3 separate regions of the Homo sapiens genome follow, and all the other regions are linked to region 2. Evidence: fine-mapped expression QTL. A gene starts in region 2. Each other region holds a variant in brackets. All regions are shown on one strand. Distances are from middle to middle. Region 1 has its middle 73 kb from the start of OGFRL1. Region 2 holds the start of OGFRL1 (opioid growth factor receptor like 1). Region 3 holds the start of LOC124901338 (a long non-coding RNA gene).

Evidence for each region. PIP is the estimated chance that this variant, and not a neighbour inherited with it, causes the effect.
Region 1: its variant is the best candidate, but not a certain one, in a credible set for the expression of OGFRL1 in cerebellum (GTEx, PIP 0.55).
Region 3: its variant is the best candidate, but not a certain one, in a credible set for the expression of OGFRL1 in blood mononuclear cells (TOPMed, PIP 0.52).

The regions. Positions count from the first base shown.
Region 1 is chr6:71,211,830-71,220,113 of GRCh38, reverse strand. No RefSeq gene overlaps it. Among named protein-coding and RNA genes, the nearest start is that of OGFRL1, 73 kb to the left of the region's middle. The variant C/T (reference allele first, on the strand shown) is at 3,499.
Region 2 is chr6:71,284,892-71,293,175 of GRCh38, reverse strand. OGFRL1 (opioid growth factor receptor like 1) reads right to left here and starts at 4,365. Exons shown (of 7, transcript NM_024576.5): 1 at 4,006-4,365. The coding sequence starts at 4,239. It overlaps LOC124901339 (a long non-coding RNA gene), which reads left to right. Exons shown (of 6, transcript XR_007059640.1): 4 at 8,236-8,284. RefSeq lists a silencer at 3,653-4,712.
Region 3 is chr6:71,230,591-71,238,874 of GRCh38, reverse strand. It overlaps LOC124901338 (a long non-coding RNA gene), which reads left to right and starts at 4,103. Exons shown (of 3, transcript XR_007059632.1): 1 at 4,103-4,332; 2 at 5,218-5,362. The variant C/T (reference allele first, on the strand shown) is at 3,930.

The DNA of each region.
Region 1 (8,284 bases), 73 kb after region 2:
TTTTGTCCCCATCTACCATTTGTCATTTGACTTTGTTTATGGTGTTTTAAGTCATTCAGAGGTTGTTGTTTTTTTGTTAATGTACTTGAGTGTATCAGTCTTTTATTGTATCTGGAACTTGAGTCATAACTTATCCATAGCTTACTAAAAAACTTCACCAGTTCTCTTCCAGTCCTTGTGTGGTATCTTAGTCAGTGTGTGCTGCTAGAACAAAATACCTGAGACTGGGTAATTTATAAAGAACAAAAAGTTTATTTCTTACAGTTCTGGAGGCTGAGAGTCCAAGATCAAGGTCCCAGCAGTCTTGGTGTCTGATAAGGGGCCCTATCTCTCCTTCCATGATGGCACTGTGTTGGTGCATCCTCCAAAGGGGAGATGTGCTGTATCCTCACATGGTGGAAGAAATGAAAGGGCAAGTAAGCCAAATGCTGTGCAAAGCCTCTTTTATAAAGCCTTAATCCCATTGTTAAAAGAAATGCCCTCATGGTCTAATATTCTCTTAAAGGCCTCACTTAATGCTATCACATTGGCAACACCTGAGTTTTGGAAGTGACATATTCAAACCATAGCATATTGTTTCATATTTGACATTAGATGTCTGCCCCATTTAGAGTTTGCTCTCGTCTATGATGTAAAGTAAGGGTGATTTTCCAGTTGTTCTAACATAATTTATTAAAAAGCCTGTGTTTTTGAACAATGAGAACACATGGACACAGGGAGGGGAACATCACACGCCAGGGCCTGTTGGGGGGTTGGGGGCAAGGGGAGGGAGAGCATTAGAACAAATACCTAATGCATGCAGGGCTTAAAACCTAGATGATGGGTTGATAGGTGCAGCAAACCGCTATGGCACATGTCTACCTGTGTAGCAAACCTGCACGTTCTGCACATGTATCCCAGAACTTAAAGTAAAATAAAAACAAAAAAAGCCTGTGTTTGCTCAGTGATTTGAGACACCATCTTTATCATATATTACATTTTTATATGTGCTTGTTTCTCTTTCTGAAATTGCTATAATACTTTTTTTTTTACTAATGTGTCTCTGTATGCACCTGTACCCTCTATTTTAAGTACAGAAGTTTGTATAACTTTGGTAATTGGTAAAACGTTATTCAGAATAAATTTTCCTAGCTACTTTTTTGTTTATTTTACAATATGAACCTTAGAATCAACTTATACAGCTCTAGAAATAAAACTTGTTGGATTTTTGTTAGATCACATTTAATTTATATATTCACTTGGGGAGAATTAACTTTTTTATGTTGAGTCATTCTATGTAAGAATAAAGAATTTCAGCCGGAAACACTGGCTCATGCCTGTAATCTCCAGGACTTTAGGAGAAGGTAGGAGGATTGCCTGAGCACAGGAGTTCAAGACCAGCCTGGGCAACAAAGTGAGACCCTGTCTCTCAAAAAAAATTCAAAAAATTAGCCAGGCAGGGTTGCACGTGCCTGTGGTCACACATGCCTGTAGTCCCAACGGCGGCTCAGGCAAGAGGACTGTTTGAGCCCAGGAGTTTGAGGCTGCAGTGAGCCATGATCTTGCCACTGTCCTCCATCCTGGGTGACAGAGTGAAACATCATCTCAAAACACACACACACATACACACACACACACAAACACACACACACAAGAATTTCTTTTAATTAAAATCTGCTTTTGTCCCTTTTCAGGTGTATTTAAAGTTTCCCTTGTAGATTTTTCACATTTCTTTTTAAGTTTATTCCTATTTTATATTTTTGTTGTTGTAAATGGGGTTTTTCTTCCATTATGTCTTCTAACTGGTTATTGTTTGTATATATGAGATTATTGATTTTCATATAATAAAATTGTATCCTTACCAAATTTATGTATATGTTCATTTTATTACTGACTATCTCAGGTTTCCCAAGAATATTATCTCATCAGTAGCAAATAGACATAGTTTTATTCCTTTATTTTTCCCCATTCTTGTGCCCCTGTTTGTTTTGTCTTATCTGAATACAATGTCCAACACTCCCAATTCAACATGAAATAATAGTGGAGATAGTAAACATCCTTCTTGGGGCAATTTTTCAGACAGATAAATGTAGTAGTGTTTCATTTTCCATAGTATAGTAAGTGCAACCTGCTAGGGCAATAGACAACTGTCCCCAGGCAGAAAACCTGTTTTATTTGTGATACTCCAAAGGGTGCATTTCTGTAGAGTTAACTTTAAGATCCAATTTTCTTTTAATGCAGAGATCAAGGAAACTTTCTGATATTACCTCAAAAAAGTCTTGAAGAAATTCTTTTGAATTATATGTAGCAAATGGCTGTCTTCTCTCTGTGTTGATGGGGTGGTCTAATAAAAGCCACAGAAGTCCTGGAAATAGGAAGAGGATATGTCTTTGTGAGATCAAGTCTCAGGGCAAAAGCCAGGTTCCAGTCACTGGCAGGATAATGGAAAACTAAATTCATCTGTGTTTTTATGATTGTAAAAAACATGCATTAGGTATTTGTTCTAATGTAGTACTTTCTTAAATGTGTATGTGATTAGAAATTCTTTGGTGTAGAAAATCTTGAAAAAATTTTTAGTGACAGGGCAGCAGAGAATATAGTTATTATAGTATGTTCTGGCCAAATTCATGTAATAGCAAAACTGTCATCTCAATTTCAAGTTGCTTCTGCATACAAGTGAATTTAATAATAACATATGGGGGTCTTTTTAATCACAGATGCCCCAGGATAATTATTAAAAGATTTTTCTGAAAATTGTATTTAGTAAGACTTAATCCTTGGAAGTAGTTTGGGAAAAAAGTTATGCTACACTAAGGTAGCACATTATCTGAAGTAGTAACCAAATTTACAGTAAAAAAAATTATTGCTATAAGAAGTTATCAATCCTTATACATATAAAGCAAGTCAGAGAAGCCTCACAATGTATCAATGTGAGGAGAAAAATGCTAACTAAAAAAAATTAGTGTTTTTCTTATGGACATACTTATATAAAAAAGTATTTTTTCCAAGCAAAGTGGCCAATAATAAACAAAATTCTGCATAAATCAAAGGTAGAAAAAAAAGTCCTTGAATGATAATGTTTTAATCAAAATTTCCTGAATTCCCCATTAACCTACTTATTTTGATGGCATATAAATGGAGTTCTATACACAAGGGAAAGTCAATATTTTGACAAAGAAAACTCCAAAAAGAGAATGGGCTAAAGTAAGTTATTTCTTGTTGCAAGTAAAAAATCACCTTTAGTGGTGACTACAATTGTATTTATATTTGCTATGTTAAAATAAGTTTTTGTTCAACAGTATCTGACTTTTTGAGGCAAAGGACTTCTGTATTGTGCTTTTATTTGAAACTTGTGTTATCCATATAAGTGCCTTAGTACTTCACTTTTTACATGTCAACACAGCTATTAAACATATATATGTTACCTACCATGTGCCATGATGGTGGATAGACAGTAAGTGGTCCTTATTTTCAAGGAGCTCACAGATAGTTGGCAGAGACAGAAAGGAAAACTGATTA[C/T]TGCATCTAGAGATTAAAAGGAAAGGCACAGCGATATCAGAAAGAAGGCAAGATCAATCCTGCAGGGGTCATCAGGGAAAATTGCACAGTCACAGAGACCTGCACAGCAGAAGAAGGGTCAAGAGAAGTACAGGCAGGGTATAGAAAAAAGAATAATTCGTTAAAAAATCATGTGTTTGGGAAATAGCAAGACATCTGGAATGGTGGCAACTCTTTGTTCAATGTCTGTTTTCCCAGATAGATTCCAAGGTCTGTAAAGCTAAGAACTATGTCTTTCTCATTCAGCATTATATTCCTTTCCAGTGTCTAGCATAGTATCCAGCACTTTTAAGAAACTCAGTGACTATATTCATGTTTTTCTACCCATGCTTCTTAATATTTTTATTAATCATAGAATACTTAATACATATAAAAGTTTATAGTATAATAGATACCCATATACCCACCACCCATATTAAGAAACAAAATATTACCAATCTACTTAAGGCCTGTTATGAACACGCCCACTTCTCCCCAACCAATAACTACTACTGTGAATTTTATATTTAATAATTTTTGGCTAAATTTTGTATTTAGCAATTTAGTTAATATATTTGTGGAAATATTTAAACTTGATATAACTATTATCATGATGTATATTTTTTCCTTGATTTTGTTTCTTTCCTTAACATTATGAGATTCGTCCATGTTGACCCTTGTATTAATTTTCATTGCTACATAGTAGTCTGTTGTGATTATACACAATTTTTCTTTATCAGTTTTGCTTATGATGGGTGTTTATTTCCAATAGTTTGTTCTTACAAACAATGATGCTATACATGTTCTTGTACATGTCTGTTGTATATGTAATAGAGTTTCTGTTCTAGGTATACACTTGGAAGCAGATTTGTTGATTAGTATTGCTCAGCTTTCTCACCAGTACTTGGAATTGCAGCCCTCCTCTATTTTCCCTGATTGGATATATGTGAATGGTATCTTATTATTTTATTTTGAATTTCCCTAATTATTTTTGAAGTTTTCATTTTATGTTTACTGGCCATTTAGATTTGCCTTCTGTGAGTTTCTGGTTCATCTCCTTTGACAATTTTACTTATATGCAATTCACCTTTTTAAATTGATTGAGATCAACTTTATTGATTCAGTTATCATTAATATGTGTTGTAAATATAATCCCTTTTTACTTTGATAAAAGATACAAATGTCAAATCTAATTAATCTTTCTTCTTTTGGGTTTGTGTCTTTTAAGTCTTATCTAAGAAATCCTTTTCTGGGCCAGGCGCGGTGCCTCACACCTGTAAACCCAGGCCTTTGGGAGGCCGAGGTGGGCGGATCACCTGAGGTCAGGAGTTCACAGACTGGCCAACATAGTGAAACCTGTCTCTACTAAAAATACAAAAAATTAGCTGGATGTGGTGGTGGGTGCCTGTAATCCCAGCTACTCGGGAGGCTGAGGCAGGAGAATCGCTTGAACCCAGCAGGTGGAGGTTGCAGTGAGCCAAAATCATGCCATTGTACTCCAGCCTGGGCAACAAGAATGAAACTCCATCTCAAAAAAAAAAAAAAAAAAAGAAAGAAAGAAATCCTTTTCTACCCAGAATTCATTTTATATATATAAATAGATATATAGATATATCGGTATTATGTTATGTTACATTATGTTAACTACATTATAACATAATATCGCATATGTTAGATTATATATTTTTAATCCATTTGAAGTTTATTTTTGTATGTGATATGGAATAGGGATCTGAAATCTGATTTTATTTTTCAAAAGTTGATAATTTCCTAAATAGCTCATTTTTTTTGAATAATTCATCATTACTTTATCCACAATGGCATCTTCATCATATATTAACATATATGAGTACCTTTCTTCATTTATCCTGTTCCACTGTTTTGTCTGTCCCTATACCAATTCCATACTTCCTTAATTATTTTTGTTTTATAAACTAAAAGAACCTCAATCAAATTAAGGCTCAATTTTTTTTTGGCAAGACTATCTTGTATGTGGTATTTTGCACTTCTACCAGGACATATATAACATCTGATTTCTCTCTTTTTTATGGTTTCTGTATTGGTAGATTACTTCCTTTTTCTTTCTCCTCCCTTTGTTTTCAAATTGCCTTTATAATCTTGGGCTTATTTTTCTTCCACATAAATTTTAAAACTGGGTTTTTACTATCGATAAATCTGAATATTTCTATCTTATTTTTCATTTCCCTGAAATTTTACCTTCTTTCATCTTTTCAGACTATTTATGATTGATTGAGTCTTTTAAAAAATAAAATAATTGGGCTTGAATTACATGGGGCCCCTTTGACTATTCTTTTATCTATTTTTGTTTTTTTTATTTATACATAACAGTTATACAATTTTCTGCTTACATGTCATAATTTGACATATTCATATAATCAAATCAGGGCAATTGGGATATCTGTCACCTTAAATATTTATCTTTTCTTTATGCTAGGAACATTCAAATTCTTCTCCTTTAGCCATTTTGAAATGTAACTGTGAAATAGAACCCTTATTTGAATTTTTTTTAAGTTAAAGGAATTAAGTTGTCAGGGAAATGGGAACATTTATTGAATATCTTTTATTGAAGATTCACTTTTAATTTTTAAAAATGTAATGATGGCATTGAGGTTGTCCTAAAAGAAGACCATTTCAAAATAATCTGTGACCTGGTGGTGGTAGAGATGGGATTGTTTAGGAGGAAATAAGTAAAGATCTAGATAAAGAATAATTGGTCATATATTGGTAATTGCTGAAGCTGGGCCATTGGTGATCATTACCTAGACCCAGGCATTCATCAGGAGTTTTTAAAAGTGATGATAGGTCAATTTGGACAACTTCTTGTACATTTATTTCCTGGAATAGGTATACAAAGAGAAACTCTCACAATAATTATTTTCATAGTCTGAAGCCTCAGGAACACTTTTAGGAAATAAAGAACTTATTCTTCTTTCTTTTTAAATTTATTTTCAAAATATTGAGATAGTTTCTAGACCCTGCAAAGGCTGTAGCCAATGAGTTTATTTATTTCTATAAATCATAAATAATTAGTATCAAATCAAACTTCTGGATTTATATTTATCTGATATGTTTTAATGCATTGCAGTTGTTATCCTTATTGAGGCATGACATTTCCCATCTTTGGCCAGAGCAGCTTAATCAAATGACTTTATGAGCCCCTGAGTAGAGTTTCTGAGAGCTTCCTTACTTTCTGGTATGAAGATGTTCCTGGATTATCCTGTACTTTTCCTGCCCCAGAGGTGTAATCTGCCATATTTCTGATGGGGGTTCATCTTTTTATTTCATTTATTCTCTACTTTGGTGGAATATATATGTTTTATTTCCATTTTTTAACTGACTTCCCAGAAAATTTTAACATATTTGGTTTACCCAAAACATATAGTCTTATCTTTGTAAATAATAGAAAGATATTAAAAGTTTAACCATGAACAATCCTCTATTAGCTTGCTAGGGCTGCCATAACAAAGTAATATAAGCAGGGTGGCCTAAACAATAGAAATAGGTTGATTCACAGTTCTGAAGGTTAGGAGTCCAAAACCAAGGTCAGCAGGGTTGGTTCATTCTGAGAGTTGTAAGAAAGTATCTGATCCAGGCCTCTCCCTAGCTTCTGGATTGCTGGCAGTCTTTGGCATTCTTTGGCTTGTAGAATCATCGCCTGTGTCTCTGCCTTCATTGTCACATGATGTCCTCCCTACATGTGTGTATCTTCTCCTTGGGTCCAAATTCCCCCCATTTGGCTGGGTATGGTGGCTCACACCTGTAATCCCTATATCACTTTGGGAGGCCGAGGAGGGCAAATCGTTTGAGGCCTGGAGTTCAAGACCAGCCTGGGCAACATACGGAGAACCCCTACAAAAAAATGCAAAAAATAGCCAGGGATGGTGGCTCACACCTGTAGTCCCAGCTACTCAGGAGGCTGAGGTGAGAGAATCACTTGAGCCAGGGAAGTGGAGGTTGCAGTGAGCAGAGATCGCACCACTGTACTCCAGGTGGGGGACATAGGGAGACCTTGACTCGAAACAACAACAACAAAAAACAATTCCCCCTATTTTGTAAGAGCATCCGTGATATTAAATTAGGATCCACCCTAACGATCTTCATTTTAAATTGATTACCTCAGTAAAGACTCTATCTCCAAATAAAGTGTCATTCTGAGGTACAACAGGGGTTAGGACTCCAATTTTTGGAGAGGGTCACAATTCAACCCATAACTACTCTTCCATTTTAAAAGTTATCATTATACAATAATTTTTCCACATTTTACCACGTAATAAATATTACTTTTTTATAATTGATTTATATTTACCCTCATATTTACCCATTTTTTCACATAGGATTTTTTTCTTGAATTTTAAACCTTCTGTCTTGGATTGTTCTACTTTTGCCTTAAGTACTATATCCTTTTGAAATTCCTTTAGTGAAGTCAGTGAGAGATTAACTCCCCCAATTTGTGTTTGCCTGAAAATCTGTATTTTCATTCTTGAGAGATAGTTTAACTAGGTTTACAGTTTTAGATTAACTTTTATTTTCTCCCAGCACACTAAAGATGTTTTCCGGGTTATCATTTTTGCTGCTGTGACATCACTCTAAGTTGCATTCCTTTGAAAGTACATTGTCTGTTTTAACCAGATGCTTTTAATCTTCTCTTGTCGCTGTGATTTTCACTTTAATTACAATGTGACTGAGTTAAGGTTGGTTTTTATTTATTCTGTTTAGGATTTTTGTGTTTCCTAAATCTAAGAATCTT
Region 2 (8,284 bases):
AGATTAATGAAAATATTATAAATATTCCTTTAATAACGCTTACTAGCAATATTTCTTAGCATCCTATTTTTCTTATTTGAACCAATAACATTTGTCCTAAGATATATTACTGAATAAAACACTTTATTATTAACCAAAAACCTAAGAGGCCAATGTTATGGATCAATATCCATCAAAAATGGAACTCAAAAAGGAATTCAAGACATTTATTTACCAGATGATTATGCAAGTGATTCTATGATAAAACTTATTTTAGAATATTTTACATAATACTAAGAATGTGTTAAGTTACTAAATCAATTCTACAAAGAAAATTGTCATTAAATTTGCAACATTTAGCTGTACTTGGAAGTCAAGTAATATTTATGAAAAGAAAGGATTTTAAAACAAACTAGCTTTCTAAACTCCATCCTTTATAATACCATGACAAGTACACAAAGGCATGAATAATCATCTGTTCACTGAATGATAATACAATGTGATATAAACATTTAAAATATATACACACAAAGCAATAAAATGCTCTTAAATGGAATGGTGTCCAATTGAAACAACTTATACATGGTAGTTTACTCATACTGTTCAAACTCTTAAGTAAAATTCCTATCACCATGAACTGATTTTTAAAGTATAAGATGTGGGTTAAAATAATCGATTTGCATTCCCTATATGTACTATTATAATGTATGAGAAAGTGCTGATGACAATCATGAAAAAGAAAAACTTTAGACCTTTAAGAGTCATTAAAAGCTTTGCCCCAAATTCTTTTCTCCTCAACCCCTGTCCTCCATCTGTGTTGACAGATTGGCATCCTCTAAGTAATTTTCACACATTTTTGAAGTGGTGTGATTCTCACTATTACTACAAGTACCGAGTTACTTCAACATCAAATCTTCTGATGCTTAACATTAGTTACGCTGTCATGTTACATAAGCAAGGAAAAGCTTGAATTCTGGTCCTTGCCACACGTTTCAAAATAGCTCTGCCTAGCAAGTTTCTGAATCTATTTAGCCTGAGATACAACCATATGAATCATCATCCTACATTTGTATAGAAGGCACTCTCCATTTACAAAGCACTTACATATATAGCGAATAGACAACAAACAGGGTTGACAGTCAAAAGGCATTATTTCATTTGATTCTTAAAACACACCTGATTGACAGTTAATAAGTGTTTCCATCTTAGAAACAAGATATCAGGGGCTTAGAGAAGTTGCACACCACCCAGAGTCCAGTGACAGTGCAAGAACAAGAATCCCAGGCTCTGGGTCCCAAGTCCAGGTCTGAATCAATCTCAGTCACACTAAAAAATGAAGGATATATGGAAACCTTGGTGTAGTATCAGTAGCCCAAGACTTGGAGTCAGAAGACTAGCAATCTGAACGCTGCTTACTTGTATTTGTGAGGCCTTAAGCAAATCATTTAGCTGAATCTTAGTTTTATCATCTCTGAAATAAAGATAATGACTCAAGCCCTACCTATTTCTCAGGATTATCATAAGAATGTCTGTGTCCTGCCAGCATCTGCTCCTGCTCTTCCAACCCCTATTCCCTTTGGACTCTCTACCCAGACCCCTTTCACCTGCTCAGACAAGGATTCTGTTGTTCAATATTGTTCCTCTTTCCTGGATCATCAAAATTTCCCTCTCTTCTCGATCTCAAACAAACATGCTGTAGTATCTTTAATCTTAAAATAAACATACAAAACATTCCTTGACCCAGGCCTACCATCAATTACAGATCCATATATCTACTCCTTTTTTATAGCAAATCACCACCAAAGAATTGCCCATACTTTGTTTCCTTCTTTTCTTTCCCCATTTTCCCCTGACCCACCTCAATCAGGCTTTTGTCCTCAGCACTCCAACAAAATAGTTCTTGTGAACTTCACCAATAAGTCTCCATCTTGCCAAACCATTTCTTAATGTTCACCTCAGGTGACCTCCCAACAGAACTGGGCCAATTAAAGCATCCCTCCTTCCTGAAACACTGTCAGTATTTGGCTTACAGGCTACTATAACTTTCTTAGTTTACTTTCTGTCTCATTGGGCTCCCCTTGTCAGCCTCCTTTTTTGGCTCCTCCTCCTCTTCATACCCTCTAAATGGAGGGGTGCCTAAGGTCCTCAGTCGTCATCACTCCTTGATAACCCCTTATCTTCCCATGCCTTTAAATACCATTGATCTCAGATGCTGAGGACTCTAGTCCTGGACTGTCTCCATTCATAGATGTAATTTAACTACCCAACAAATGATTAACTACCCAACAACTCTACTTGGATGTGTAATAGGATATCAAACTCAAGAGAATCGTTGATTTAACCTCCATAGCTGCATTCTCCCTAGACTTCCCTGTCTTGGTTAATGTCACCATCATTTGTTCAGTATTCAGAGGGACTAGGATGATGCAATGGAAGTGGTGTGAAGGAGTCAGTCTGGGATACGCTTTAAAAGTAGCTCCAGTATTACCTGCAAGTGGATTGACTCTGAGGAATAGACAACAAATAGGGTTGGCAGTCAAAAGGCAAAATTGAAAAGCAGATTTTTTGGGGAAGTCAGATGGTGATACTAACAAGAAAAATTAATCATTAAAAGGGAATAGGGAGGGCTGGTGTAGTCTACTAGTTACTGGGGTTGCAGTTAACTGACTGAACATTATTAAAATGTTTTATATAGATGGACCTGGTTAGTTGGATTGAATCTTAGCTGGTGTTTTTTGATATTCCAAATTTCTGTAGGAGGTTACTTAATTGGGAGACAAACGTAAGGGAAAAACATGAGAATGCAGCATCTAATAATTTAATAAGATTGAATTAGCAATGCAAAACAACAGCGGCAAACCAGACACAGGGGCAGATGGAAATTCAGAATTCCACAGGTCCAAGGCGCTGATATCAGTGATAGATAGACTTGGGTTTGCATCATCCTCTCCCTCAGTGATCTTGGGCAAGTTTTCCTTTCTCTCTAAGCCTCAGTTTTCTCTAAAATGGAGACCACACAGCAAACACCCACCCCAAAATTGTAGTTCATTTAAATAACACGTTTAACACAGAGCCTGCACTAAGACTTTATGATTTCCTCCTTACCTAAATAGAATTGATCATCAAGATGGCTGAGGCGGTGTTAGCTGTAATATTTAGGTTATGATTCCCCCAAAACCCTGTGGTCACATTGGACTTTGGGCTCCATTTTCCCAATCTCCATCGCCCCTAGCTGATAAAGAGAAGGGCCTAATGTGGAGCGGCAAACCTGAACCACCTCCAGGATGCACACTTCTTCAGGGGGTCGGCTACATATTTCCTCCTTTTTAAAGTTCCTGATTATTTTCAGTCCATCAGAGGTTAAGGGGCTTATCTCTTGACTAACCTCTCCTCCAAGCTGTATTAGTCAAACAGTTCAAACACAGTTGGATCAACAAGTCTTCTGGTGAAATAAGATTCGTGAAGAATGCCCTGAATCCTAGGTTGAAAGGCCTGAGTTGGGCAGAACAGTGACGTATGAACTTCAGATGAGGGCCTACACTTCTGACGGCTTAGACCCCACTGTAGGGGAGAGCGCTGGCTGCTTGCACTTGTAGCCCCACCTTATTCTGAGTAATTTTTTTTTTTTTTTTTTTTTTTTTTTTTTTTACCAATAACACACACTAGAGGGGTTGTCAAAATCCTCTATTTTTAGACAGGTTCCTCCCACCCCACCTTCGCATAATCCAGCTGCTCTGCAGAGGCAAAGAAAACACCCATTCAAGTTGGGTTCTGCCTTGAGGGACTTCCTCGCCGTGCCCTCGGCCAGGCCCCAGGCCGGCAGTGGGAGGGTCCGGCGCTTTGGGCTCCTGCAGGCCCCCGGGCTCCACCGGGAGACAGGTCAGCCGCGGCGCGGAGGGGTCGGGTCGCAGCGGCGAGCAGCCACCTGGCGCCCCTGGCCTCCGAGCGCGAGGGCGGCTTGGCACTTGCCCCTCTGGGGTGTCGGGGCGCCCCAGCCCGACCCGAGGCCACCGCTGGGCCGCGTACCTGCTCGGCGCCCGCCGCCTCGGCGTCCTCGTCCGGCGCGGGGCTGGCGCCGGGCCGCCCGCCGGCTTGCTCCGGGGGCTGCGCGGGCTGCTCGGACTCCTGCCCCGGGCCCTCGCTGCCGCCGCCCGGCCCTGGTTCTTCGGGCTCGGGCTCCGAGTCGGTCTGCCAGGTGGAGTCGCAGTCCTCCACGGTGGTGGGCTCGCGGAAGCTGACCCCGCCGAGCAGGTTGCCCATTGAAGAGGCGGCGGCGGGCGCGGGGCTGCGGGGCTGCGGGGCGCAAGCTGCGGCAGGCGCTCTAGGGCCCGGGCATGGCCGCGGCGAGGGCGCTGGGCGGCAGCCTAGGCGCGCCCGCCCCGCACTGCCTCAGCGCGGCGAGCGGCGGACAGGCACCCTCGCGGGGAGGAGCCGGCGGCCCCGGGACCGCCGCCGCGCGCGCCTGAACCCGCCCATCCGGCTCCTTCTCCTCCCCACAGGCGGGAGCTGCCGCCGCCCAGAGCCCCCAGGGGAGCCAACTGCGGCCCCCAGCCGAGCGCCACCGGCCCCAGGCCGCGCCTCCCTTCCACGTTTCTCCCCGGAACACCTGCCTTCACGCGGCCCCCGGCGGCCCCCGGAGTGGATTGGGGTCGGCTACTACCCTCGCCGCCCGGAGCCGGGGGACGCCCTCCCGGGGCATCTCCCAGCTGAGCGGGATGAGGGATCCCGCCCAGCTCCTGGAGCTGAGGACTGGCGTGGACGTGGTGTCGAAGAGGTGTCACCGTCAGCAGGCGGGTCCTGTCCACACCCCCTCCCCCTCTCCCTGGTCCAGGAGGAAGACACTTTAGCTGCAGCAGAGGACAAAAGCTGATGGTGCCGGGCACCATATAAACAGGAAATCCCAGCTGCCACAACTGTACTTAGGGCAGCCACCTAGAGTCCTTGTGGTCTAGAAAAAGTCAGAGCTATCAGTCACCTCATCTAATGAGCAATCGCTCGTGAAACAAAAGGAACAGTAACAACTGGACCATCACATTGATTTGCGGGTAACCTTACACCCACTACAAATTGGTGCTCCGTGTAGGCAAAAATCTCAGAATCAGTAGAACAGATGGGCTGTTTCTAATGGAAGAAGCCTCGGCCCTGTGGTCTGTTCTGCAAATGAAAGGAGGAGGGAGAACTGTGTTAGGGAAGTTCTTTCTTTTTTCTGTTCTGTTCTGTTCTGTTCTGTTCTGTTCTGTTCTGTTCTGTTCTGTTCTGTTCTGTTGTTCTGTTCTTTCTTTTCTTTCTTTTTGAGACAGAGTCTCCCTCTGTTGCCCAGGCTGCAGTGCAGAGGCGCGATCTCGGCTCACTGCAACCTCCGCCTCCTGGTTTCAAGCAATTCTCCTGCCTCAGCCTCCCAATAGCTGGGATTACAGGCATAAGCCTATAGAAGTACGTAAAGATAAGGTAGTATTATCAAATATGTGACCCAGAGAAAAGTGACTGTTGTAAAATGTGTCTTCTGGCTTTCTAACTAGAAGGGAAGCCTCTTTGCAGGCAGCCCCCGTCTGAAAGTGTGTCTGTATTTACAGTGCTGTCAACTTGGTGGATGCTCAGTAAACATTTGTTAAATATGGACTAAGAAAGATGAGCTAGATATTTGAAGATTAAACTGTTGAACTTGGAATGAATAGTTTCTTTTCAAATGTTTCATGATGAAGTAGGAAGCCAAATCATGTTAGATGGACTGTTTCTAAGGGAAGAATCAGGTAAACCAGCTGCCTATTCCATGGATAAATCAGGATTACCTAAGCTCTTCATGCACTGCAACAAGACATCTAGGCTGTAGCTCTGTCACTAATCAGTTTCTGACTTTAAGTAGGTCACATGAACCTAAACTTCCTCATTTGTAAAATGAAACCAGATCTCTGGGAGCCCTTCCAGCTCTGACCTTCTGTGATCCTATGACTGGGAAAAGCTCTGAAACTAATAAGAAATAGACACGGGGTGCACAAAAAGACTTTTGGGGCCGGGTGCGGTGGCTCACGCCTGTAATCCCAGAACTTTGGGAGGCCGAGGCGGGCAGATCACCTGAGGTCAGATGTTCAAGACCAGCCTGGCCAACATGACGAAACCTCATCTCCACAAAAAAATATAAAAATTAGCCTGGCTTGGTGGCGGGCGCCTGTAATCCCAGCTACTTGGGAGGCTGAGGCACGAGAATCACTTGAACGCGGGAGGTGGAGGTTGCAGTGAGCTGAGATCAGGCCACTGCACTCCAGCCTGGGCGACAGAGTGAGACTCCATTGCCCCCACCCCCCGCCAAAAAAAATACTTTTTGATTATAATGGCTTAGCAGAAGAAGATGTGGGGCAGCCACATACCACAGGAATCCAACTGCTCAAAGCTGGGAATTCGATTTTCCGTTGGTAGAAGACCGGAACACATTGCAGAAGTAGATATTGTCCATCCAGCCTTAAGTGTTCCGAGATTGTTGATGTGGAAAGTCTAAGGATAGTTGTTGTGTCCCAGGCGCTCCATCTGTTGGTTTAGGTGTATGTAGATTAAAGTTGGCCACATGTTCTTTGCTCTCTTCCCATTGAGAAGTAGTCTTATTCCTTACTCTTGAAGGAGCTGGCCTCAGTGACTTGCTTAACTATAGAATATGAAAGAAGTGATAGTCCAGGATTTTCTAAGTTAAGCCATAAGGAACCTTGCATTTTCCACTGGGTCTCTTGGAATATTCTCTCTGTTAGCCCCATGCTGCCATGTAAAAAGTTCAGCTAGCTTGAGACTGCCATACTCCTAGAAAGGCCACTTGTGTGTGGCCTCTGGTCATCCTCTGGTCATGGTACCAGCTGAGGCCTACCTTCCAGTATCCCCTGCTGGATTCCACGTTTTTGTTTTTTTTTTTTTATTGAATCCTCCAGACCAACCCATCCACCATCTGAATACCTTTCAGTGACCTCCATCGACCCTACTTGGAATAAAGGGACTACCCAGCAAAGCCCTGCTCAGATTTCTGACCCACAGAAGAGTGAAATGCAATAAAATGGCTGTTGCTTTAGGTCACTAAATTTTGTAGTAGTTTGTTATACATCAGTAGATGATGGAATGGTGAGAAGTATCTGTGTTTGTGCATATAAACATTTAAGTAACTACTGCAATTAAATCCTTCCCTTTTACACCACCTTTTGAAAAATGTGTCAATTTTTATAGGACCATAGATGATATGCCAGATTTTGCAATATATTTTCTAAAGAACATAATTTTACATGAAGCGTAACACCAACCTTATATAATATTTAATCAATTTTAAGTTTAGAGCAATAAGCACGACCACATTGTGCCCAATCTATGTGTTATTTTTACAAGTTAATGCTGAAGTTCTGTCATCCCAAGCTTCTATACACAGGAATTATCCTTCTCGAATACCTAAACTTTTTTCATTATCCCTGCCTTGCAGAGTATTTAACATTCCTGCATCAACAGTAAAGAAGGGTACCTTTGCTTCATATAAAAATCATCACTTAGCTCAGTGCCAGGCATCTATTAATTTATCAATATATGTTAGCTGTAATGATGATTCATTCAATATGTCTTTAAAGAACATATAATTCAACAGTAATATACACATGTATGGAACAAGGAGAAACTATTATCACAATGGACTATAATATAGTTTCTGACTCCCTGTAAATAGAATCTGCTCTAAATTAAGCAGATGCTATAGCCATGCTTCAATATAACTCTGTTTTCAACTTCGTTATGAAATCCTTTAAGGGTGAGGCCATTTTACAAAGGACAAAGAAACTGGTGCTTCAGGAACTAAACTTTTTTGGATGAAACCCAAATGTATCTGGCATATCTTGAATTGTCTTTTATAGTCAATCCTGTTTTAGGGACATTAACAAAGGTTTATTATTACATAATTTGAGAGTCTTTCAAATAAAAGGAAAGGGCAGATCAAGGGCCATTTTCCCCAACCTCAGGAGTTAACTCCTCAGTACCTCACAGGAACCTGAAATCTTTGGAGGAAAAAAAAATAGTATTATTTTAAAAATTAAAAATAATAAAGATGGCTCTCTAAAGAAACATCTGAAATTAGTAGTAACATGCTGTAATATTATTTTCCATTGACTGTAGCCAAGGGCCTCTGCTAGCACCCATGAGAACTTTGTGTTCTTGAGAATAAGACACCTTTGCTCCAGGGCTTAGTGAGCAGGGCCTGAACTGGAGTTCCCTCCCACCACCTTAACTGAACTCTTCATGCAGGACACAGCATGTACAACCTCACATAGAGTTCCTGACCAGACAAGACTTG
Region 3 (8,284 bases), 54 kb after region 2:
AAATAAAAGCAATAAAGCCAATAGGAGCTGTGATGGAACTCACCTCCCTGTCTTTCTCATACAAAGTCTTTAATGCTGATGGGTTTGCTCTTGGCCTAGCTCCTTCGCACAGTATTGTTTGCAACCAGAGTCATTCTGCTTGGCTGATTCCTTAATGCCCAACCTTATTCCCTTTCTCTAAAAATTCTGTTTCTCTAGAAATGTGGATGGAATAAGGATTGCTAAAGCTATGTGTTCTGGGAACACTGAACCACCTATTCCAAGACAGCCTTGAATGAACCTTCTCTTCAGTCTCCACAATCCAGGACTGCACAAGGAGGGTGACTCGTGCATTCTTTACTCCATATATGTCAGCTCCACAGTGTGCAGGATGTTCATGTACAACCTCACACTACTGGCCTGTCTCTTCCCATCTCTGAGTGGTCAGTATAGCTCAGTAATAGGTTCCAAATGGGAAGGGTGACATTTATTCATAGCTGAGCTCAGAAAATTTAGAACCACATAAAATGTCCAAATTTAAAACTCCCTGTTTTTACAATCGGGTTATAAAATAACAAACACCCTGACAATTATGCTAACTCTATCCTTCACTTTCACACTTGCCTGATCCATTACCCTATCTGTGAGTCCTGATGCTTTCCTCACCCTGGATACATCCATAGTATGCTCCCTGTCCCATTCCTTCTACAACAAGGGTGCTAACCAGAAATGGAGTGAGGCTCAGGTATTTATCCATTCATTTTTCTCCACAAATATTTTCTAAGGGCCATACACTATTCAAAGCACTGGAATGAATATGCCTGTCTTTCCTTCATTTTTACTTCCTTCTTTTCTTTTTCTTTCTTTCCCTTCCTTCCTTCCTTTCTTCTTTCTTTCCTTCCTTCCTTTTGTTTTCTTCCTTTCTCTCTCTCTCTTCAATTATTTTCCTTTCAGATTATGTAATTATTTTTACTTGGAAAATTTAATATTGTGTCTCTTTTAGCTGGGTAAAATATGTCTAATTTCAAAGTAGCCAAGTCATAATGTCCTATAGCACCAAAAAGTGTTTCAGCTCCTAGATTTCCAAATAATGTAATTTAGAAAATAGAAATAATTGCAGATTCATACACAAAAAAATTTATTTATTTTTTATTCTTTTTTTTTTGAGATGGAGTCTCTCTCTGTCACCCAGGCTGGAGTGCAGTGGCGTGTTCTCAGCTCACTGCAACCTCCGCCTCCCGGGTTCAAGCAATTCTCCTGCCTCAGCCTCCCGAGTAGCACACAAACAAATTTTAAATGATCCTATGGACAAAAGGTTCTGTTCTTTCCATTGGTACTACCACTATTGCACATTTATGAAAGTAATTTAGAGACATGTACAAGGAAAATCTGTCTCTAAAAGGCTTCCAAATTTAGTAAATTGGGATATTTTACAATCACCTGTTTTAGTTTATGATAAATACAATTTACTTGTTCATTTTATGCACTCTGGTCAAATTAGAGCAGTTAGTTCATGCTTTAATGTATTAACACAACACAGCAAAAAGCATATAAAAATATAAAAGAAAACACCCGAAACACATGTCTGAGTTCAAAGCCTATTAAGCATTCCTGTGCACCAGAAATAGAAAAGAAATGCAGAACTGAGCATAGCTGAGGCCACAGCCATGCTGGGCTCTTGTCCTGAAGTAGGCAGTGACAGCTGAGAACCAGGGAAGGAGAATTGAAGGTGTTCCATGGAAATTAGCATACTGGAGCCAGATTTGAAAACAGAGGCTAGATGAGGCTCCTTCTGGTAAAAGGAGGTTAAAAATCTGCAGCCAACCATTCCCTGGGGCCATGGCTTTGCAGAGAACTTCAGAAACAAGAGAACTAACACACATTGCACTTGAGGAAGGGTGCTAAATGCACCTGGCCTGGGGCCTGATATCATATGCCTGCTGAGACCAAGGGCAGGTGTTCTGCAATGTCATACAGCACTAGGTTTGGAGGTAGGGTTCAGGAATTTGGGAGAAGGAAATGCAAAACTGCTAGATAGAGAAATTTGAAGAAAGAGAAAGAAGGGGAGCAATTTCATTCAACATGATGCTGCAAAACAGAATTTCAAAGCGGGAGAATTCTAATGCTGTGAAAGTAATCCTGCCAAAAATCAACAATTGGAACATAATTTCATTCCAGGTGAAATTTTATTAAACTGATCTAGCCAAAACTTAAGAATAAATATGCTTTGAATGCTTAAGGGGAAAAATGGAAAAAACTATGCACTTTTTTTAAAAAAACATAAAATGTGAAAAGCAGACAGATATGAAACAAGCCAAATAAATTAAAAAGCAGAATGATTAGACATCTTGGGAGTTAAAAATCTATTCATTGCAATAAAAAATTCAAAGATAGGGTAAACTTTGGAACAGAGGCAACAAAAGAAAAACAATAAACTGAAAAATATTACTGAGGGATTTACCCAGAAGACAGCATAGAGAATAAAATATGGAAGAATGCTAAGCAGAGAGATCACACAGGGTAGTATGCTTGGGAGAGTTCCAATTTACATCTGTTGTCCTGATATAATTATTAGTGGCACTTCTTTTAACTCCCAAATGCATCTCCCCTGAGAATCAGGGAAGGAGAAGTGAAGGTGCTCCATGGAAGTTAGCAGACTGGAGCCAGGTTTGAAAACAGAGGCTAGGTGGGGCTCTGGTTATATAAACATAATTATATAAATATAATTTATTAGGCAATAGTTGTATGGTCACCTAAAACTATATAGGATAGTCTGAAGACAAATAGGACTGCCTATTTTTCTTTAAGGAAGGAAAAAGTCACAAGAAAGTAATATTTGGAGAGAAAAGAGCTGTGAGTTTTCCAAAATTGAAGAAAAATATGTCCTCAAATTGAAAATGAACTATAAAAACCAAGAAGGATCTACAAAAATATATTCATACCCAGACTTACCAAAGTAAAACTGGAATACATCAAGAATTTGGACATGTTTTTACCAGCTACAAGGAGAAAAACAGGTTACAACAAGAAATGGTAATTAAACAATAAATCAAGTGGGCTTCTCATTAGCAACCATAGATGCCATGAAACAATAGAGAAATAAATTCAATATAATGATGGGAAACTGGAAATTTAGAATATTATATCCAAATAACTTAGCAACACAAACAAGGTGCTGGAAAATAGATTCTCAATCTATAATATATTCCTGTTTAGGTTCTTGGGTTTCTGAGTAGGATAAAAATACTAGATAATTTCAGATATTTTTAAAATTATAGTTATAATTAATATATAATTCACAGCTTTGTATGTTAAAAGCTTAAAAATATTTTTATTGGAAATTAACAATTGAATATATCTATATATGGAAATGTAAAGGACCAAGACCAGAGAAGACAATTTTGAAGAAGGACAAAATCCCTCTAAGGGTTATCAAGATGTATTGCAAAGTGATGATATTTAAGACAGTTTTGCATTAGCATAAAAATAGACAAATAGAAATATGGAAAAGAATAGAAACATTTGTGACAATTTGTTTCATGATAAAGCATAATGCAAATGAAAAAAGAATGGTATTTTTAATAATGATTTTGGGTCAACTGGTTATCTATATGAGGAAAAAACACATTTTGACATCCTACCTCACATGACACACAAAAATCAATTCAGGGTTGGAGGTATATGCCTACCTGAAAAGTAACAATTAAACATCAAGAAGATAAGAGAGAATATCTTTATGACCTTAAGATGGGCAAATTTTTTTAAAGAAAAATAGTGATTAAAGGGACATAATTAAAATTAAGAACCTCTGTTCATCAAAAACCCCAGTAAAATAGTCATATGGTTTGGCTGTGTCCCCACCCAAATCTCATCTTTAATTGGAGATCCCATAATCTCCATGTATCATGGGAGGGACCCGGTAGGGAGTCATTGGATCATGGGGGTGGTTT[C/T]CTCCATGCTGTTCTTGTGATAGTGAGAGTTCTCGTGAGATCTGATGGTTTTATAAGTGTCTGGCATTTCCCCTGCTTGCACTCATTCTCTCTCCTGTCACCCTGTGAAGAGATGCCTTCTGCCATGATTGTAAGTTTCCTGAGTCCTCCCCAGCCATGCAGAACTGTGAATCAATTAAACCTCTTTTCTTTGTAAATTGCCCAGTCTCATGTATTTCTTCACAGCAGCATGAGAATAGACTAACACAAATAGTGGAAGAGAAGACCACCAACTGGAAAAGATACTTTCAATATTTTTACCTGACAAAAGATTATTATCCAAAACATATTAAATGTTTCTGTGAAGCCATATAAAAGACAGACAATCCATTAAAAAATTGGAATAAACTTGGATATTGAACAGGTAATACATGAAATACAATACATAAATGGGTGATAGCCATATAAAGTGCTCAAAATCATTAGTAATGAATGAATTAAAAATTGTGTGCATGCAGCTACACACTCATCAGAATAGGTAAAATCTAGAGAAACAGGTATTACCATATATTGAGGATATGCAGCAACTGGAGCTTTTATGCACTACACATGGGAATATAAATTGGTACAACCTCTTCAGAAAACTATTTGGCAGTAACTACTAAAACTAAACATAAGCATAGCCTACAACCCAGTAATGCCAGTATTTCACTCCTAGGTATATACCCAACAGAGTTGTAAATGAAATGTCAATGAAAGGCAGGTACAAAGAATGAAATGAAATTAGAGAATGTTTAAAACAGCATTATTTGTAATCCCCAAACACTAGAAACAATCCAAATGTCCAGCAAGAGTAGAATGGATAAATAAATTGTGGTGCATTCGTTCAATGGGATACTTCATAATAATAAAAGTAAATTAATCATCAATATAATCAATAACATAGATGAGTCTAATAACATAAGAATGAGCAATAGCAGCCAGATGCAGAGTTCATGTCATATCCCATTTATGAAAAGTTCAAAACAGACAAAGCTAATCTATGGTAAAGAAGACAGATATGGTTAACCTTAAGAAGAGAAGGGAGATACTGAGGGCGATTCAGGGTATTGGCAATGTTCTATGTCTTAATCTGAGTTATAGTCACACAGATGTATTTACTTTGTGAAAATATATTAAAATCAACATTTCTGCATATAAGTGTGCTCATCTGTATGTATTTGCTATACATGAAATAGAAAAATAAGGCATAATCTTAGGGTTACCAATATAGAAATAGAAATAATCTTGATATTTTTCAAACCTCCAGAGGAATCAAAAGAAGGAGGAAGAATAGAATGATTTGGAGGAAAAGAAGGAGAAAGTAGAGGAGTTGAAAAAAAGGAAGAAAAAGAAAAATGCAGAATCCTTTGTCAATCCAACAGAACACAGCAAAAAAGCAAAGAAAGTGAAAGGTAAGTAGATAGCACAAAAGGAAATGGTACAAATAAGCCCAAAAGTGTAATGTATCAGAGTCAATGTGGATAAAATTCACCTATTAAAAGGCAGAGATGGGATAATAATAACATAAATCCTGCTGTATCCTGGTTAATAAAAGGCACACCTAACACCAAACCAAAAGAAAATTTTGAACATAAAGTTTTGAAAAACTAAGAGGTTTTTATTAAACCTCTTTTATTAAACCTATTTTATTATTTATAGTAAGATGACGTGTTAGTCCATTCTCATGCTACTAATAAAGACATACCCAAGATTGGGTAATTTATAAAGAAAAGAAGTTTAATTGACTCATAGTTTTGCATAGCTGGGGAAGCCTCAGGAAACTTACAATTATGGTGGGAGGGGAAGCAAAAACATCCTTCTTCACATGGCGGCAGCAGAAGGAAGCGCCCAGCAAAGAGGGAAAACCCCTTATAAAACCATCAGATCTCTTGAGAACTCACTATCATGAGAACAGCAGCATGGGGGAAACCGCCCCATGATTCAATTACCTCCCACCAGGTCCCTCCCACAACAGGTGGGGATTATGGGAACTACAATCCAAGGTGAGATTTGGATGAGGACACAGCAAACCATCTCAGGTGCATTATAAAATAATACAGAACAATCCCCAAGCCAATAAAATAATCTTTAACTTGTATGCACTTAAACATAACATCGCACTAGGCAGAGAAAACTGATAGGATTACAAAAACTGACAAATCCAGAACTATAGTAGGATACGTTAAACACTTCAATAAGAAAAAAGGTCAAAAATAAAAAAGAAAAAGAAGAAAAAACAGGTCAAATAGAAAAAGCTAGAAGAATATAGAATATTTGAAATACTTGGTTGTACCTAGCCCTAGCTTAGCTCTCTCCCTACTCCTGCCTATCTTCCAAGACATACACACCTAAACCCTCAGGCTACTTAGAAGTGAGTATAAATCAATTACAAGCTCTCAAGCTACATCTTGTAGAGAAATACCCTCACATTCAGTTAATATGGGAAGGGACCTAAGGGGAATTCACTCAATCTATACCAGAACAAAAAACAGAGTTCAGATGCAGAGCTCACTGAAAATATGAACAAGATGAAAAAAGGATGACATGAGAACTAGGTAAGCAGAACAAAAAATAAGAATGAAAGGAACTCTATAGCAACAAAGAACACAGAGAAATATTCATGCTATAGAAAATCTTATTAAGTACATGAAATGAATAAAATACAAGCTCAAATGTAAGATGATAACAATACAGAATGATGTAAAAATGGAAATTGACAATATAAGGAAACAAATTGAAACTAAAATAACACCATTACAGAACTTATAAACAAATTACATGCAGAAAGAAATTTAATGGACATGGCTGAAAAATAAATTGCTCTACAAAGAAAAGGCTTGAGATAAGCACAGTAAAATCAACGGAAAAAGATGAACAGATTAGTAGAAATAGAGAGAAGATAATAGCTAGAGAGAAGTGACAAATATGCCATTATATAAAGATAATAGGTATCTCTGAATTGAAAAACCAGTAAATGACTCAGAAAAAGTATTCCAATAGAAAATAGAAAAATAATCCTGTAATGCAAGAATAAGACACTCTGCAACTCAAAAGTGCATATCATATTCCAAGACAAACATATTCAACCCTATTTTTCCTAAGTCATATTCTGTTGTTACTGAATTTAAGAATAAGAAAAAATTATTTAGCCATCCAGAGACAAATAATAAGCCTCTTATATTTGGGAGCAAAGCAGACTGGACTCAATCTTCTCTGGAGTAACATTCTGGGTTACAGGATGATAAAGCAATGTCTACCAAGTTCTAAAGGAAAAGAAATGTGATCCAAAAATATTGTATTCCACTAAGATTCCACTCAAGTATAAATACCACAAATAGATATTCTTAAATGTGAGAGAATATAGTCATGCATTGCTTAATGACAGGGATACATTCTGAGAAATGCATCCTTAGATTGATCTCTTTACTGTGGGAATAGTGTACTTACACAAACCTGATGGTATAACCTAATACACACCTAGGCCATATCATATAGCCTAGCTCCTAAGCTACAAACCTGTACAGCATGCTAATGAACCAAATACTGTAGGCAATTGTAACATAATGGTAAATATTTGCATATCTAAACCTATCGAAACTTAGAAAGGGGATAGTAAAAATGCAGTATAAAAGGTTTTTTTTTGTTTGTCTGTTTGTTTGTTTTTTAATGGTACTCTTGTATAGGACACTTAGTATGAATGGAGCTTGCAGGACTGAGGGTTGCTCCAGGTGAGCCAATGAGTGAGTGGTGAGTCAATGTGAAGGCCTAGGATATTACTGCACACTACCATAGACTTCATAAACACCGTAGAATTAGGCTCCAGTAAATTTATTTAAAACTTTTTTCTTCAGTAATAAATTAATCTTAGTTTACTGTAACTTTTTTACTTTATAAACTAATAATATTTTTTACTTTGTAAACTTTTAAGTTGTTGACTCTTTTTTTTTTTTTTTTTTTGAGTCGGAGTCTTGCTCTGTCGCCCAGGCTGGAGTGCAGTGGCGCCATCTCGGCTCACTGCAAGCTCCGCCTCCCAGGTTCACGCCATTCTCCTGCCTCAGTCCCCTGAGTAGCTGGGACTACAGGCTCCCGCCACCAGGCCCGGCTAATTTTTTTTTTTTAGTAGAGACGGGGTTTCACCGTGTTAGCCAGGATGGTCTCTATCTCCTGACCTTGTGATCCACCCGCCTTGGCCTCCCAAAGTGTTGGGATTACAGGCGTGAGCCACCGAGCCCAGCCTGTTGAGTCTTTTGAAATAACATCTAGCTTAAAACACAAATGCATTGTACAAAAATATTAGTACAAAATAGAACAAATAGTATAGTTAGTATAATATA